Regions from separate parts of the Homo sapiens genome. Here region 1 is linked to region 2. Evidence: fine-mapped expression QTL. Tissue or cell type: pancreas. Region 2 holds a variant in brackets; the other region holds the start of a gene. All regions are shown on one strand. Distances are between the middles of the regions.

What was found. PIP is the estimated chance that this variant, and not a neighbour inherited with it, causes the effect.
Region 1: it holds the start of PPAT, and the variant in region 2 is fine-mapped to the expression of PPAT in pancreas (GTEx, PIP 0.94).

The regions. Positions count from the first base shown.
Region 1 is chr4:56,431,711-56,439,952 of GRCh38, reverse strand. It overlaps PPAT (phosphoribosyl pyrophosphate amidotransferase), which reads left to right and starts at 4,338. Exons shown (of 11, transcript NM_002703.5): 1 at 4,338-4,603. The coding sequence starts at 4,476. It overlaps PAICS (phosphoribosylaminoimidazole carboxylase and phosphoribosylaminoimidazolesuccinocarboxamide synthase), which reads right to left and starts at 3,693. Exons shown (of 9, transcript NM_001079524.2): 1 at 3,625-3,693. The coding sequence starts at 3,640. RefSeq lists enhancers at 2,723-3,606, 4,454-4,633 and silencers at 3,734-4,023, 4,164-4,363.
Region 2 is chr4:57,241,927-57,250,168 of GRCh38, reverse strand. No RefSeq gene overlaps it. Among named protein-coding and RNA genes, the nearest start is that of IGFBP7, 140 kb to the right of the region's middle. The variant T/C (reference allele first, on the strand shown) is at 4,701.

The sequences.
Region 1 (8,242 bases), 810 kb after region 2:
GTTGCAGTAACTTGAACAAGAAACGTCTGGCCAGGTGCAGTGGCTCACATCTGTAATCTCAGCACTTTAGGAAGACAAGGAGGGCAGATTGCTTTAGCTCAGGAGTTCAAGACCAGCCTGGGCAACAGGGCAAAATCCCATCTCTACCAAAAAAACAAAAATTAGCCCAGCATGGTGGTGCATGCCTGTAGTCTCAGCTACTTGGGGAGGTCGAGGCCGCAGTGGGCCAAGATTTGCACTATTTCACTCAAGCCTGGGTGATAGAGTGAGACCCTGTCTCAATAAAAAAAAAGGAAAAGAAAAAGAAATGTCTTGGTCTAAGGAAAGAGTAGTGGGCAAAGATGCAAGATATTTAAGATAGTAGCTTTGAGAATTCATCATGGAGGATAAAAGAGAGGGAAGGGTAAAGAACAGTGGGCCGGGAACAGTGGCTCATGCCTGTAATCCCAGCACTTTGGGAGGCCGAGGCGGGCGGATCACTTGAGGTTAGGAGTTCAAGACCAGGCTGACCAACATGGTAAAATCCTGTCTCTACTAAAATTACAAAAATTAGCCGGATGTGTTGGTGCACGCCTGTAATCCTTGCTACTTGGGAGGCTGAGGCAGGAAAATCGCTTGAACCTGAAAGGCGGAGGTTGCAGTGAGCTGAGATGGCGCCACTGCACTCCAGCCTGGGCAAGAGAGGGAGACTCCGTCTCAAGAAAAAACAAAAACAAAAAAAACAGTGCCCAGATCAGATAAAGAAATTAACATTTATATATATTAATATGCAGTAAGCCCGGGCAAAGTTTGTATCTAATGCCCCTCCCCTTAATTTAGTTGAATCTGTATTACTTAGTCATTAAAGAGGGAAGGAATTTGAATTAATGGGTAGAAACAACATAAGAAACAACCATACGTGACATACCCTGCAAGTACCAAAATGGTTGCTACAAATTTGTAGATGAATTCTGGAAAGATTGATGAGGACTGAAAATGATTCATGGAATTGAAATTTAAGAGTCTGGGAAAGCACAGAATTTACACAAAGGATAAGAAAATTCTAGGACTCTGCTGTCCAATAAGGCAGCCACTAGAAATGTGGCTATTACAAGTTGAAATGTCATTTGTTAAAATATATACTGCATTCGATATAAAAAATTGTAAAATATCTAAAGAATTTTTCATCTTGACTCCATGTTGAAATGTATTTTGTGTATATAGGGTTAAATAAAATATATTAAAATGGGCTCACGCCTGTAATCCCAGCACTTTGGGAGGCTGAGACAGGCAGATCACTTGAGGTCAGGAGTTTGAGACCAGCTTGGCCAACATGGCAAAACCCTGACTCTACTAAAAAATACAAAAAAAAATTAGCCGGGTGTGGTGGAGTGTGCCTGTAATCCCAGCTACTTGGGGGGCTGAGGCAGGAGAATCACTTGAACCTGGAAAGTGGAGGGTGCAGTGAGCTGAGATCTTGCCACTGCACTCCAGCCTGGGCCACACAGAGCGAGACTCCATTTCAAAAACAAAGCAAAACAAACAAAAAACAACAACAAAAAAAACCTTTTATATATATATATATATATATATATATATATAAACACATTGCACCAGTTTTTTTTATTATTTTACTTTTTAAAATGTGGCTTATAGAAGACAAATTTACATTATATTTCCATTAGCCAGCAATGTTCTGGGAAAAATAATATAAATAAAATGTATATAATGAAAAACAAACTTTGGTGAATTAACCTGACTGGAACATAGCTAAGGATTCACAGGAGAGAAAAATCAAAGTTAGGGCTGAAGAGGTAGAAGGGATAGCAGTATTCAGGATTTGAATGAAAAGGGATTTCAGACTGGACAGACTGGATTTAACATCTCTAGAGATGCCATTTTTGCCTTTGTTGCCACTTTTGCCTTTTAGAGACCATAAAAGTGACATTTAAGAAAAATCAACCTGCCAACGGTACACAAATGGAAAGAAGTGGAAGAGCAAAGATTTTAGAGATTTGCCATTTTAGAGGTACAGGTACCATGATTGCAAGAAAAATTCTGGTCCTTGCCTTGATTCTAGGGAGTTGATACTCAATATCATCTGAATCTTTTTTGCTGAGTCTACAGCTTTTTTTTTTTTTTTTTTTTTTTTTTGAGACAGAGTCTCTCTCTGTCGCCAGGCTGGAGTGCAGTGGCGCGATCCCGGCTCACTGCAGCCTCTGACTCCCCGGTTCAAGTGATTCTCCTGCCTCAGGTTCCCGAGTAGCTAGGATTACAGGCATACGCCACCACGTCCAGCAAATTTTTGCATTTTTAGTAGAGCCGGGGTTTCACCATGTTGGTCAGGATGATCTCGATCTCCTGACCTCGTGATCCGCCCGCCTGGGACTCCCAAAGTGCTGGGGATTACAGGCGTGAGCCACAGCGCCCGGCCTGAGTCTACAGCTTTTTAAAATCTGAATTCAGTTACTTTCTATGTGGAAAAGAATGTACCCAGCAGCCACAAAAGCAATTTGCCTCACTATACATATAGCAACTGGGTGTGTGGAAAAAACCAGCATTTGTTTTTTTCCAGCATAAATAGCAAGAACAATCTTTCCTGATAGTGCAACTTTTTTGCCTAAAGGTTTTGGAGTTCTTCAAAGCCATCGTGGCATCAAAGACTACTGGAACGAACACACACACACACACACACACACACACACACACACACACACCATCATGGCATCAAAGACTACCTAAAAACAGCCCCCCTCCCCAGCCATCATGGAATCAGACTACTTCAACACGCGCGCGCACACACATACACACCCATGACATCAAAGACTACTTAAACACGCACACGCACGTACACACACCCCAAGCTATCGTGGCATCAAAGACTACTTCACGCGCGCGTGCACACACACACACACACCATGGCATCAAAGACTACTTACACACACGCCCCCTAGACAGGTTTTTCTTTTTCTTTTTTGAGACGGAGTCTCGCTTTGTCGCCCAGGCTGGAGTGCAATGGCGCGATCTCGGCTCACTGCAACCTCCGCCTCCGGGTTCAAGCGATTCTCCTACCTCAGCCTCCTGAGTAGCTGGGGATTACAGGCGCGCGCCACCACGTCCAGCTAATTTTTTGTATTTTTAGTAAGAGACGGGGTTTCGCCATGTTGGCCAGGCTGGTCTCGTACTACTGACCTCAGGTGATCCGCCCGCCTTGGCCTCCCAAAGTGCTGGGATTACAGGCGTGAGCCACCAGGCCCGGCCTCTAGACAGGTCTTTCAAAAGTTTCAATTATTAACCTTCTTAGAAAGGTCATTAACCTAACGGGCAAAGCAAGACTCAGGTTTTGACGAATCAAGACTGATTTGCTTGTATTTTGCAATAGCTATTGATTATAAATAATACTTCCAGGCACCTTTCCACCCCTTGGCCATTTCTCGTTCTCCTCTACTTTGCTCCTTCTCCCCATCCCCGAGGCAGTAAAGTTCGGGGAGGCCCGGGAGCGCCTGGGCCACGTGTGCGCCCGCGCGGCTGCCTAGAGGCGCTGCTGCAGGGAGGCGGGACAGAGTTTCGCGGCTCGCACGTGGCCGCGAGCTCACGGCCTGGGGGTCAGGGAGACCGTGAAGGGCCCGGATCCCTGTTACTCACCCTCAGCTGTCGCCATTATCCTAAGTGGGCTGAGGGCTGCGACCGCGCCGGGAAGCGAGGCAGAACTCTAGAAAAGAGGGGTGGTCAGAGAGCTTCGCTGGGCGGGGAAGGAGGCGGGGCCGCGCGACCCTGCGCCACTCTTTTCGAGCTCCGCTACAGCCGCCTAACCCGGAGGGGTATGGGCGGAGACTGAAACGCGGATATCGGACGAAACAACGCCCCACTGGCTTCCCGCCGCGCAGGCGCAGAGACGCGACCCCGCCTCCGGGCCGCCCCGCGCTGGCGCAGTGCCCGGACAGGCGAAAAGTGGCGCGCACTGGCGGCCCCTCCCCACTCTGCGGAAGCTCGCATACCCCGGCCCCTTCTCGGCTGCGGGAGCGACTCAGAAGTTGGAGCGTACCAAGTCTTGACGGCCTGGGGGAAGCATGCAGGGAAGGGCATATGAAGGCTAAATGCTCTGAAAGAGAAATGAGGTTAAGTCCGTTACTCCCATTACGCTACTGTTGGGTGCTGGAAAATAACGGAGATTTCCACGTGCAGCAAATACAGCTTTCCAGGCAGCTCTTAGGGGAAGGCTAGCTCCACCCTACAGCATCCGTGACCCCGCCCCTCAGCCGCGGGACCGCCCCTCCGCCCTCGCTCGTTGGTGGACTCGGAGGGGGAGGAGCAGGGCTGAGCTGGCCACGCCACCTAGGGACAGCGCGCGCCGCCGCAGTAGCTGGGGCCACCCTCGGGAAGGAAGAGCCTGTCGCGAGCGCGAGCTTCTGAGCTCGACGGGCCGAGCTGGCAGCTGGTTGGTGCTTACACCTTGGCCGCAGCGGCAGGTCCTTCCACGTGCTTTCGGCGGCGACATGGAGCTGGAGGAGTTGGGGATCCGAGAGGAATGTGGCGTGTTCGGGTGCATCGCCTCAGGAGAGTGGCCCACGCAGCTGGATGTACCGCATGTGATCACTCTGGGACTCGTGGGGCTGCAGCACCGGTGAGCAACAGGGTGGGGGTGGCGGGGGCGTGCGTCTCCATCTCTCGGAGCCGCTTCCCGCAGTCGGCGTTCTCATGAGCGCCCGAGGGCCCGGGAGGACCGACCTCTCCGACCTAAGCCAGTACCTGCCTGTGGCGTCGACCGGGTTGCCTAGGCGTGCACGAGGGGCACCTCGCTTCCATGAACTTTAGCCTGTCCTGCCCACCCTCCCAGCCACTTATGCCTTTTAGGGGCTCTCTCCCTCCCCGCCCCCCGGTGTGTGCACCCATCCAGAGGCTGGCCAGCTTGTAAACCGCCGGTTTGCTTGGTCTAGCTGGGTCAGGGCTCCTCCCCGACTGCAGGCGGGTTCTAGTCTCCCGGAGCCTGTGGCTGCTCCTGTAATAGGCTAGTGTGGCGTGGCGGCCAGTCCAGGTCCTTCAACACCTAAAGGTTTTCGCGCGGGGCCTCCAACCACCACAAGCTTTTGTTTGCAAGGGCAGAGCTATTGAGCAGATTATGGGTTTGAAAGTAGTTATCGCTATGGGAACTTGAGGATGCTAGACTTCAGACCCAGGGAAAGATGACTAGTTGATGTTGAGAATGACTACTGGTAGTAGATCTCACATAAATTAAATGGAAATAAGCCAACCATAGGGAACAGTGCATCTGGAAAAGATTCATTGGTAGACGTCTTGCCTAATGAATGAAAACGTTGGTAATAACATGACAAAAATTAACTCCCTTCTTCAAAAGGGGGACAGGGGAGTAGTGTCTCTATGCCAAGATCCATACACTTGATTTTGAAAAATTGGGAGATCCTTTCGAGTTAAAAAAAATTACTTTGCTTCGGTGATCTTTCCTTTTCTTACTACCTGACTTAACTGGAAGTTGATATAAATTATTACACTAGGATAAGAAAAACAAACCTGGGTTTGATATTCTTACTGAAAGTATTACAGTTTCCATAAGGCAATACAGTGGTAACAACTTACACTACAGTTAAGGAACTTGGCAATAACACGTAACAGCAAAATGGGTGCAACACGTATAAACGCATTCCAAAAGATTAGCTTTTCCTCCACCAAACTTAAATTAGAAGTATTTTTTGCTGTTTTCATTGTCCCAGGTACTTCAATTTCAGTTTCACATTTTGTGTGTTCCTTGTTTACTAAAGAGCTGAGAATGTGGGAAGCATCAAAAAGAATATTTTTAACTTGCGTAGCTCCAATCTTGGATAATTGTGGGTTGACCATAATAGATTTCTTGTTTTTTTTAAAAAAAGTTTATTGAGAAAATTAGTTACGTAATCCAAGGAGAAAGTAAACTCTTGATTATGTGGTAGTTGTGAGCAACATTAGTTTGTAACATTCTTAGAAACTATGGCCAGGCGCGGTGGCTCACGCCTGTAATCCCAGCACTTTGGGAGGCCGAGGCGGGCGGATCACGAGGTTAAGAGATCGAGACCATCCTGGCCAACATGGTGAAACCCCATCTCTGCTAAAAATACAATTAGCTGGGTGTGGTGATGCGCTCCTGTAGTCCTAGCTACTCCGGAGGCTGAGGCAGGAGAATCGCTTGAACCCGGGAGGCTTAGGTTCCAGAGAGCAGAGATCACGCCACTGCACTCCAGCCTGGGCGACAGAGCGAGACTCCGTCTCAAAAAAAAAAAAACAGTTGTTATTTTGGATACTCTGTCATGGGGGTGAGGGAGAATCTAGAGGTCTTTAGGGTTGCCTGGTGGTCTGTAGAAAATATGTATGAACTGTACTTCACTATATTTACTTTTTTTGCCAAAGTTATTCAAGAAATTTTCATCCCCCTTTCTCCTTCCCTTTAAATGTGTGCCTGAAGAAAAAGAGGCTTTTTTTTTTTTTTAACTTACATGTTAGCACTGGTTGGAGTTTTAGTACCCAGTTTAGGAAAATACTTGGTATTCATGGTTATAGGTTTTTTTTTTCTTTTTTTTTTTTTTTAATGAATACCATTTGATTCCTGGTTACATATATCTGTTTTCTATAGTTGCTTTTCTGTGAAAGAATTGTAAGATTAAATAATACCAGATAAGGGCAATAATGATGTGATTATGTGGTTTTGAGGAACAAATGTATTACTGAAAAACAATTTAACATTTCTCTTGTGTAGGCATAGAATCATTAAGGTGCACAAAGAGGGCTGGTTCTCACCCATAATCAATTCAAAATTTTACATGAGCTAAAGTGCTCATCCTTTGGGAGGACTGATTCTGCTTGGAAGAACAATGACACTCCCTTATGTCTTGGAAATACAATTATCTGCTGCTCGAAACTGATAGATAAGGGCCAGAATAAAACTAAGAACTTTTTCTTTTAGTTTAGTTTTATATATATATATATAAAATACGTGTGTGTATGTATATATGTATATATATATCGTACTCTGAGAAGTGGTGGTCTGTTGCAGAAAGCTCTGTTTTCACTTTCTCACCCTCATTCACTCACTGGTTAGTTTTAAAACAACTGCAAAAAGGTTTGATTGTGTTTTTTTCCTTTTTGATGAAGGAATTTATTTCTTATATATTATCTTCTTGATTTTTTTTTTTTTTTTGAGACAGAGTCTCGCTGTCTCCCAGGCTGGGGTGGAGTTCAGTGGCGCAGTCTCCCCTCACTGCAAGCTCCGCCTCCCGGGTTCACGCCATTCTCCTGCCTCAGCCTCCCGAGTAGCTGGGACTACAGGCGCCCCCCACCACGCCCGGCTAATTTTTTGTATTTTTAGTAGAAACGGGGTTTCACTGTGTTAGCCAGGATGGTCTCGATCTCCTGACCTCGTGATCTGCCCGCCTTGGCCTCCCTTTTTTTTTTTTTTTTTTGAGACAGGGTCTCACTCTGTCACCTAGGCTGGAGTGGAGTGGTATGATCTGGGCTCATTGCAACCTCCGTTTCCCAAGTTCAAGTGATTCTCGTACCTGTCTCCCGAGTAGCTGGGATTACAGGCGCCCGCCACCACACTCAGGTAATTTTTGTATTTTTAGCAGAGACGGGGTTTCACCATGTTGACCAGGCTGGTCTTGAACTCCTGGCCTCAAGTGATCCACCCTCTTCGGTCTCCCAAAGTGCTGAGATTACAGGCGTGAGCCACCATGCCTGGCCAACCTTATCTTTAAGAAGATGGAATCTAGAAGGTGAGATTTCTATCACTTTTGTTTTGTATTTGGTCCAGTTTTTTGTCTTGGGTATAATCTAATCTGAAACATTTAGTCCTGGGGTTAACAGAATACCTGGAAGGTATATTAGCCATTTCATATAAAAATAAATAGAGTATCAATTAGTTAAGCCAGTCATGCACTGGATATTTAACCCAGATGGGTTCATCCAGATGTACTCCCCGTTTTTAGTAGTTCTGGCTGTCTTCAGATTTATTCCGTAGCTCTGCTTTCTGTAGGGGAATTTTCACATGTCCTCTTAGCTGTAAACTGTGCATGCATGTGTGTGGGTATGTTCATGCCTGATTTATATAATCACCAAATGCTGTTTTGGTCCTGAAAACATCATTTCAGTAGTTTGCGGAGTTCTGAACAAACCAGACACCCCTTCTTAGAATAAACATTTTCATCTTTAAAACACAGTCACATTTTATGGAGACTAGAATGGCCTGGACATATTTGAAGATTCCATAAAAGGAATT
Region 2 (8,242 bases):
CACAATTAAATAATTGTATGCTGCTTGCAGCCCTCTGGGAAGCTCATATTCTGCATTAGTACATTAGAGGCTCTGAGAAGTCCTGCGCTGGAGGCCTCTATGAAGCTCTGAACCCAGTGGCTTCAAAACTTTTTAACCAAATAACCTTTTTTTCTAAGAACACTTATTAATGTCTTCCAGGGCTCTAATTTCTACTTGGGAAATTCTATGAATTTACCTCAAGGTTAATTTTCATCTCACAGGAGGTTAAAAATTAAGTTTGACCTATACATTGAGTTAGAGGTCGTTTTCTTAAATTATACAGAACATAGGAGCCAATCGCAAAAGTCCCCAGGAGCACACATTGTCTCCAGGCTTCCAATCCATCATTTTTAGCTGCCCATTATCTACTTGTTCTTTTCAAGCCACCTTGAGATGCTGATTTTGATGAATCTGAGGATGTAAAATAATATTTACAGATAATGAACACATTTCCAGAGCACAATTTCTTGGTTATTTTATTTATTCTACCAACTTGCTTCATGTAATCACATGTTTGCCACAAAGGAAGAAAAAAGGGGCAAATACATTACATTTCTATTACACAAGTAGTCTGTGAAGTTCCCTCATGCTGTTTTCTTATTTCAGCTAAAATAACCATGTTCAAAGGATACATTAATCCCATTGACCTTTGCAGAGCTATTTAGAGATACCTTGCCTTTTTTTTCCTTCTCTTTTTTTCCATATTAAAGTTTTTGGTGGAATTTCCTCACCCAAGTCAGTTGTGAAATCTGTACAGTGGAGACAATAAAATGGAGGCTTAATGATTCAGTTCATGTTCCTTTATCAACTCACTGCCCACACAGCCAACTCATTAGTATCAAATAGAACAAAAATGCCTGCAGGAAAATCGTGGGTGCTACTTTCAAGCAGTTCTTTTGATCTATGAGTCATCTTTGCTCTGGCTCCAACTTTAGGCAAATCATTTAACTTTCCCTAGTCTTTGCTTTGTTAAGCCTCTGTTTCCCCATTCACAAAATGGGCCTCATATAGTTGCCACCTCACAGAATCATGGAGAAGAGTATATCAGATAATGCTGGAAGATATCACTCAATCTGTTTACTCAAAAAAGCACTCAAGTGCCTGGAAATCTACTTTTAGGGATGCTACTGCACTTAATTGATATAATAAAACATATATGGTGGCTTCTATCATTCAAGTTTTTATAAATGAAGGAACAGAAAAGTTAAGTAACTTGCCCAATGTCACCCAGCTAAAAGTAGAGAACGGTGGATTTGAACTCTTTTCTGTTCGACTCCGGATTATTTTCAATGCTCCACACTGATGAACAACAACATATGTGGAGTGTCTCCTATAGCAAGCATTTGGCAAAATGCTGAAGCAAATTTTTTTAGAAAAAAATTCATTCCATTTAAGTCAAGCCTAGTCCTTAGGCAAAGCTATGAAGTGAAGTAAGCAAAATTGATCTCCTCTGTCCTTCCTGCCCACCTCTAAGGAACAGCCTTCTTGTGGCCCCTATAAGCCCAGGGATCTTCTCACAAATGCCTCACTAGGACCTACCTACCCAGACAGTGGCCTGACTTCTACATCAGTGATACACAAAGTAACCGGTCTATGCGTTGCTTCTTTAGCGGTGATTTCTGAGATTTTGGTGCACCTATCACCCCAGCAGTGTACACTGTACCCAATGTGTAGACTTTTATCCCTTGCCACCTCCCACCATTTCCCCCAATTCCCCAAAGTTCAGTGTATCGTTCTTATGCCTTTGCGTCCTCATAGCTTAACTCCCACATATGAGTGAGAACATATGATACTTGGTTTTCCATTCTTGAGTTACTTCACTTAGAATAATAGTCTCCAATTCCATCCAGGTTGCTGCAAATGCCATTATTTCATCCCTCTTTATGGCTGAGTAGTATTCCATGTTTTATATATATATATAAAACATGATATATATATCACATTTTCTTCATCCACTCATTGATTGATGGGCATTTGAGCTGGTTCCACATTTTTGCAATTGCAAATTGTGCTGCTGTAAACACGCGTGTGCAAGTATCTTTTTTGTGTAATGACTTCTTTTCCTCTGGGTAGATACCTAGTAGTGGGATTGCTGGATCAAACTGTAGATCTACTTTTAGTTCTTTAAGGAATCTCCACACTGTTTTCCCTAGTAGCTGTACCAGGGAAATAATTTAACTTTCCCTAGTCTTTGTTTTGTTAAGCCTCTGTTTCCCCATTTTACATTCCCACCAGCAGTGTAAAAGTGTTCCCTTTTCACTGAATATATTATTTTTTGATTTTTAAATTATGGCCATTCTTGCAGTACTGAGGTGATATTGCATTGTGGTTTTGATTTGCATTTTCCTGATAGTTTGTGATGTTGAGCATTTTTCCATATGCTTGTTGGCCATTTATATATCTTCTTTTGAGAACTGTCTATTCATGTCCTTAGCCCACCTTTTTTTTTTTTTTTTTTTTTTTTTTTTTGAAACAGAGTCTCACTCTGTCACCGGGCTGGAGTGCAGTGGCACGATCTTGGCTCACTGCAACCTCCACCTCCTGAGTTCTAGCAATTCTCCTGCCTCAGCCTCCGGAGTAGCTGGGATTACAGGCGTGTGCCACCACACTCAGCTAATTTTTGTATTTTTACTAGAGACAAGGTTTCACCATGTTGGCTAGGATGGTCTCGATCTCTTGACCTCGCGATCTGCCCACCTCTTGCTGGGATCATTTGTTTTTTCTTGCTGATTTATTTGAGTTTTTTGTAGATTCTGGATATTAGTCCTTTGTCAGAGGTATAGATTGTGAAGATTTTCTCTGTAGGTTGTCTGTTAACTCTGCTGATTATTTTTTTGCTGTGCAGAAGCTTTTTGGTTTAAGTCCCATCTATTTATATTTGCTTTTGTTGCATTTGCTTTTGGGTTCTTCGTCATGAAGTCTTTGCCTAAGCCAATGTCTATAAGGGTTTTTCTGATGTTATCTTCTAGAATCTTTATGGTTTCTGGTCTTATATTTAAGTGTTGGATCCACCTCAAGTTGATTTTTGTAAAAGGTGAGAGATGAGGATCCAGTTTCATTCTTCTACATGTGGCTAGCCAATTATCCCAGAACCATTTGTTGAATACAGTGTCCTTTCCCCTCTCCACTTTATGTTTTTGTTTGTTTTGTCAAAGATCAATTGGCTGTAAATATTTGGCTTTATTTCTGTGTTCTCTATTCTGTTCTCTATTCTGTTTTATAGAACAGACTCTATTCTATTCTATAAAATGTGCCTATTTTTATACTAGTACCATGTAGTTTTGGTGACTATGACCTTATAGTATAGTTTGAAGTTGTGTAATGTGATGCCTCCAGATTTATTCTTTTTGCTTAGTCTTGCTTTGATTATGTGGGCTCTTTTTGGGTTCCATATGAATTTTAGGATTTTTTTTTAGTTCTGTAAAGAATGGTGAAGTTATTTTTATGGGAATTGCATTGAATTTGTGCATTGTTTTTGGGAGTATGTCATTTTCACAATATTGATTCTACCCAGCCATGAGCATGGAATGTGTTTCCATTTGTTAGTGTCATCTATGATTTCTTTTAGCATTGTTTTGCAGTTTTCCTTGCAGAGGTCTTTCACGTCCTTGGTTAGGTATATTCCTAAGTTGTTTTTTGTTTTGTTTTGTTTCGCAGCTATTGTAAAAGGGGTTAAATTCTTGATTTGATTCTCAGCTTGGTCACTATCGGTGTATAGCAGAGCTACTGATTTGTCTGTACTAATTTTGTATCCTGAAACTTTGCTGAATTCATTTACCAGTTCTAAGAGCTTTTTGGATGAGTCTTCAGGGTTTTCTAGGTATACACTCATATCATCAGCAAACGGTGACAGTTTGACTTCCTCTTAAGGAAGCTCTTGGATGCCCTCTGTTCTGTCCATTTCTATCATTGACCCGAAAAATTAATTCATGTGAACATATCAGTGTTGCTAATAAAGAACCTTTGGAGTCTCTGGATAAAATCTTTATAATTTAAAGTGGGTCTACAGAGGAAAATAAATTGTTCTACAAAAAAAAGACATGCACTTGTATGTTTATCACAGCACTATTCACAATAGCAAAGACATGGAATCAAAGTGCCCACTGGAAGTGGATTGGATAAAGAAAATAGGGTTTATAAACACCGTGGAATACTATGCAGCCATAAAAAAGAACAAAATCATGTACTTTGCAGCAAGATGGATGCAGCTAGAGGCCATTGTCCTAAGCAAATTAATGCAGGAACAGAAAACCAAATACCATATGTTCTCACTAAGTGAGGGCTAAACATTGGGTACTCGTGGACATCAAGATGGCAAAAATAGGCACTGGGGACTACTAGAAGGGAGAGAAAGTGGGAGCAAGGGTTGTAACTATTGGGTACTATGCTCATTACCTGAGTGACAGGATCAATCATACCCCAAAACCCAGCATCACACAATATTCCCATGTAAAAAACCTGCACATGCACCTCCTGAAACTAAAATAAAAGTTGAAATTATTTGTAATAAACAAACAAAATGGGACTATTATAGATGTTCCTTAACCCAGAGAATCATTCTGATAGTGTGAATTTTAGGTACCTGTACCATGCAAGGCTGTAAGAAATATACATTAGGGAAACAGATGGAAATTTAGTTGCTACTTCAGTCACTTAAAACTGACTCTTGTGTGTATGTG[T/C]ATATGTACACACATCCACATGTGTGTGGCCTGTGGTAGCATGGTGAGGCATGATGACATGCTATTATGATGTGAGGGTTAGGGAGAGAAGCTACTTGTTTTTTGGTCAAAAGATTTCCTCTGAGTCTGCCAGAGAGAGGCAGGGTGAACTTAAACCTTGCTTCTCTATCAGAGACAGATATTTTTTTCTCTCCTCTTCGTATTCCTAGTACTAAGGGAGGATGTGTGCCCAGTGTGCCAAGAAGAGTGCCTGGAACATTGCAGGCACTCAATAAGTGTATTAGTCCTTCAGCAAGCATCCACTTAGCTCTTGTTTTATGCCAGGCTCTGTTTATACACCAGAGAATAAAACAGATGAAGACCTGGCTCTCCTGGTGCTCACATTCTAGTGGCAGAGACATTAAATAGAGGGGAAGGAGTGAAGTGAGGAGCAGCCTTTAAGAAGTTCAAGTTGGGGGCAAAAGGAGGTAAAAACAGACTGTGTGCGTGTAGCCTGCACTGTGTTCCCTTTCTCTGGGCCATATCCAGAATGACATAGATCTATGATAGTTCTATGGCAGGCTGAGTTTGGGTATTTAAATTGTTCAAAGAGGGAATTGGGGCCATGCGCGGTGGCTCACACCTGTAATTCCAGCACTTTGGGAGGCTGAGGCAGGCAGATCACAAGATCAAGAGATCGAGACCATCCTGGCCAGCATGGTGAAACCCCGTCTCTACAAAAATACAAAAATTAGCTGGGCGTGGTGGCAGGCACCTGTAGTCCCAGCTACCTGGGAGGCTGAGGCAGGAGAATCACTTGAACCCAGGAGGTGGAGGTTGCAGTGAGCCGAGATCATGCAACTGCAATCCAGCCTTGTGACAGAGTGAGACTCTTTCTAAAAAAAAAAGGGGGGGAATTGGGATAAGTTGAAGTAAAAACTTTCTTACTAGGATAGAATGCCAAGGGAAAGTGCAAATTCCATTCCTTGAATAAAAATGGGTGATGAAAATCCAATTCTTACCAGGAACCATGAGTTGAAGAAAGAATGCTGGACAGGAAGTCTGCATTCCTGCTGTGCTGTTTATAAGCTGGGCGACCTTAGCCAAGTCTCTCCACCACCATAAGCCTTAGTGTCCTCATCTACAGAAAGAGAAGGGAGGATTTGATGACCACTGAGTTCCCTTCCAATCCTGTGGATTCAATGACACCAAACTCTTCTGGTCTCTTCAAGTCCTCTACTTCTATATTTTCATTTACTGTAGGTTTTTACTGGAAAAAACAGAATGCACCACTTCTTGGAATATAGTGTTAGCCTCAAGATTTCTTAAAAAGTATAACCCACTGCTGGGATTACCATTGTGAAAAGTCTGAGAGAGGAGACAGGGCAGAGACAAGGGTTGGGGGCAGAGGGAACACATATAATACCACTATGTCTGTGTATAGACAGGAAATCTCAAAATATCTCTCACGGTCATGTGGGGCATCTCCCTCACTGTCATAATACAGGTAAATCAAGCTCTATACAATCTATACTGTTGAAAAGCAGCATCAAAACCCAGTTTGGGTCATTTAAATTATAGAAATACACTAGAGAAATTGTTATTAAAGAGAATCTTTTAATATCTTTTGTGATGCAAATGAATGCTCCATATTTCATTTTCATGACAATCTGGGTTTGTATGAATTTATATTTAAAAATTACAGCCAATATTTACCAAGGGCCCACCCTGTATCAGGCTCTGCGCCAAGAAGTTTGCATACAGTATTGCATCTAATAACAGCCTCACAAAATTATTTCTGATTATCACAATTTTACAGAAGAAGAAAATGCAGCTCAGAGAAGTTGAGTGATTTACCCAAAGTAACACAGAGTGTAGTAGGAAGGAGAATGAGTAGACAAGCCTAAATTTATCTAATCTAAGAGCCAAAATTCTTAACCACTACTCTATACTGCCCAAAAAAATTGAAGCAAAGTCTGCTCTGGGTACATGTGGAGTCTAGGGGCTCTCTTTGTCCTGTAGCTTCTATTTTCTTAGTCCAAGTCCCCACACCCATTTCTCAGCTACTGAACCTTGTTTACAGGCCTGAAAAATGGCAAGTGGTTTTCAGGCATAGATTCTGTTCTCAGAAGCCCAAGACTATGAGCCAAAATAGGCCGTGGAAGGCTCAAAAGAGAGTGGCCAGGCCAAGAGAAGGCTCAAAGCCATGTTATGTGGGAACAGTGGAAGAAGTGAACAGGCTTGGACTGGAAAGAAGAAGGCTCCAGGGAAACAGGTGCTAACAGAGTTTTTCACAGCTCAGCTGTCTCATTTGAAGAAGTCGCTTCAGCCAGAAGCAGCAGACTCAGTACATTCAGCAATGCAGATTGATTTTTAAAATACAGAAAGAAACAGAAGGTGATCTATAGCACAAAGTCAGGTATTTAAGTTTTAAAAATTTTTTAAATCTATGACAGGCCGGGCGTGGTGCTTCAGGCCTGTAATCCCAGCACTTTGGGAGGCTGTGGCAGGTGGATCACCTGAGGTCAAGAGTTTGAAACCAGCCTGGCCAACATGGTGAAACCCTGTCTTTACTAAAAATACAAAAATTAGCCAAGCATGGTGACACGTGCCTGTAGCCCCAGCTACTTGGGAGATTGAGGTAGGACAATCATTTGAACCCGGGAGGCGGAGCTTGCAGTGAGCTGAGATCGCACCACTGCACTCCAGCCTGAGCAACAGAGGGAGACTCCATCTCAAAAAAAAAAAAAATCTGTGACAAAAAAGTACATGTTTTACAAGAACTCATACAAATAGAAAAATACACATCATATGCTTTAGGATGGTTGCTTATGAGGAAGAAGTAAGAGGGCTGGGAAGAGTCAAAAGGAAGAAATAAGTGGCATTTGCCTTATTTTTACCTTGGTCCGAATATATGCATGAGGACCACATGTGTTAAGCCCCAGGAGATAATGCTAGGATCCGCAGGTGAAACTCAAAGAGCACTATTCAAAATACATCCTGAGCCCACACACTTTGCACACCAAGATGCCATTGTCTCTGGCCCGAACTTCCGCAGCAGTCTCTAACTGCTCTCCCTAAGCCCACTTACTTTCCCATACAGTCTATTTGCAGAGCAAATTTTCTATAACTTAAGTCAAATCGTACTAGGACCCTCCAATGACTCCTTATCATGTTTAGAGTAAAATACGGTATCCTTACAAAGACTCCCAAGGCCCCATGGGTCTGGCTCCCATGGTCTGCCTCCCATTCCCTTTCTAACCTCATATCTCACCATCCTCCCCTTTGCCTTCCCCATTCCAATCACACTGGCCTCTTCACTGCTCCATAAACCTGCCTCAGGCCCTTTGCGCTTACTGTTTCTGCTGCTGGAATGCTCTTCCCCTTGATACTCACATGGCTCTTTCAGGACTCCACTTGAAAGTCAGTTGTCCATGAGGCCTTTCCTAACCACACTAGTTAAGACTGCAAGTGTCCGCCCCTGGCATTCTCTTTCTTTCTTACTTGTCCCAGTCGTGCTCTTCATTTTACTTGCCTTTATTCTGTCTCTCTTCTGTAGGAAG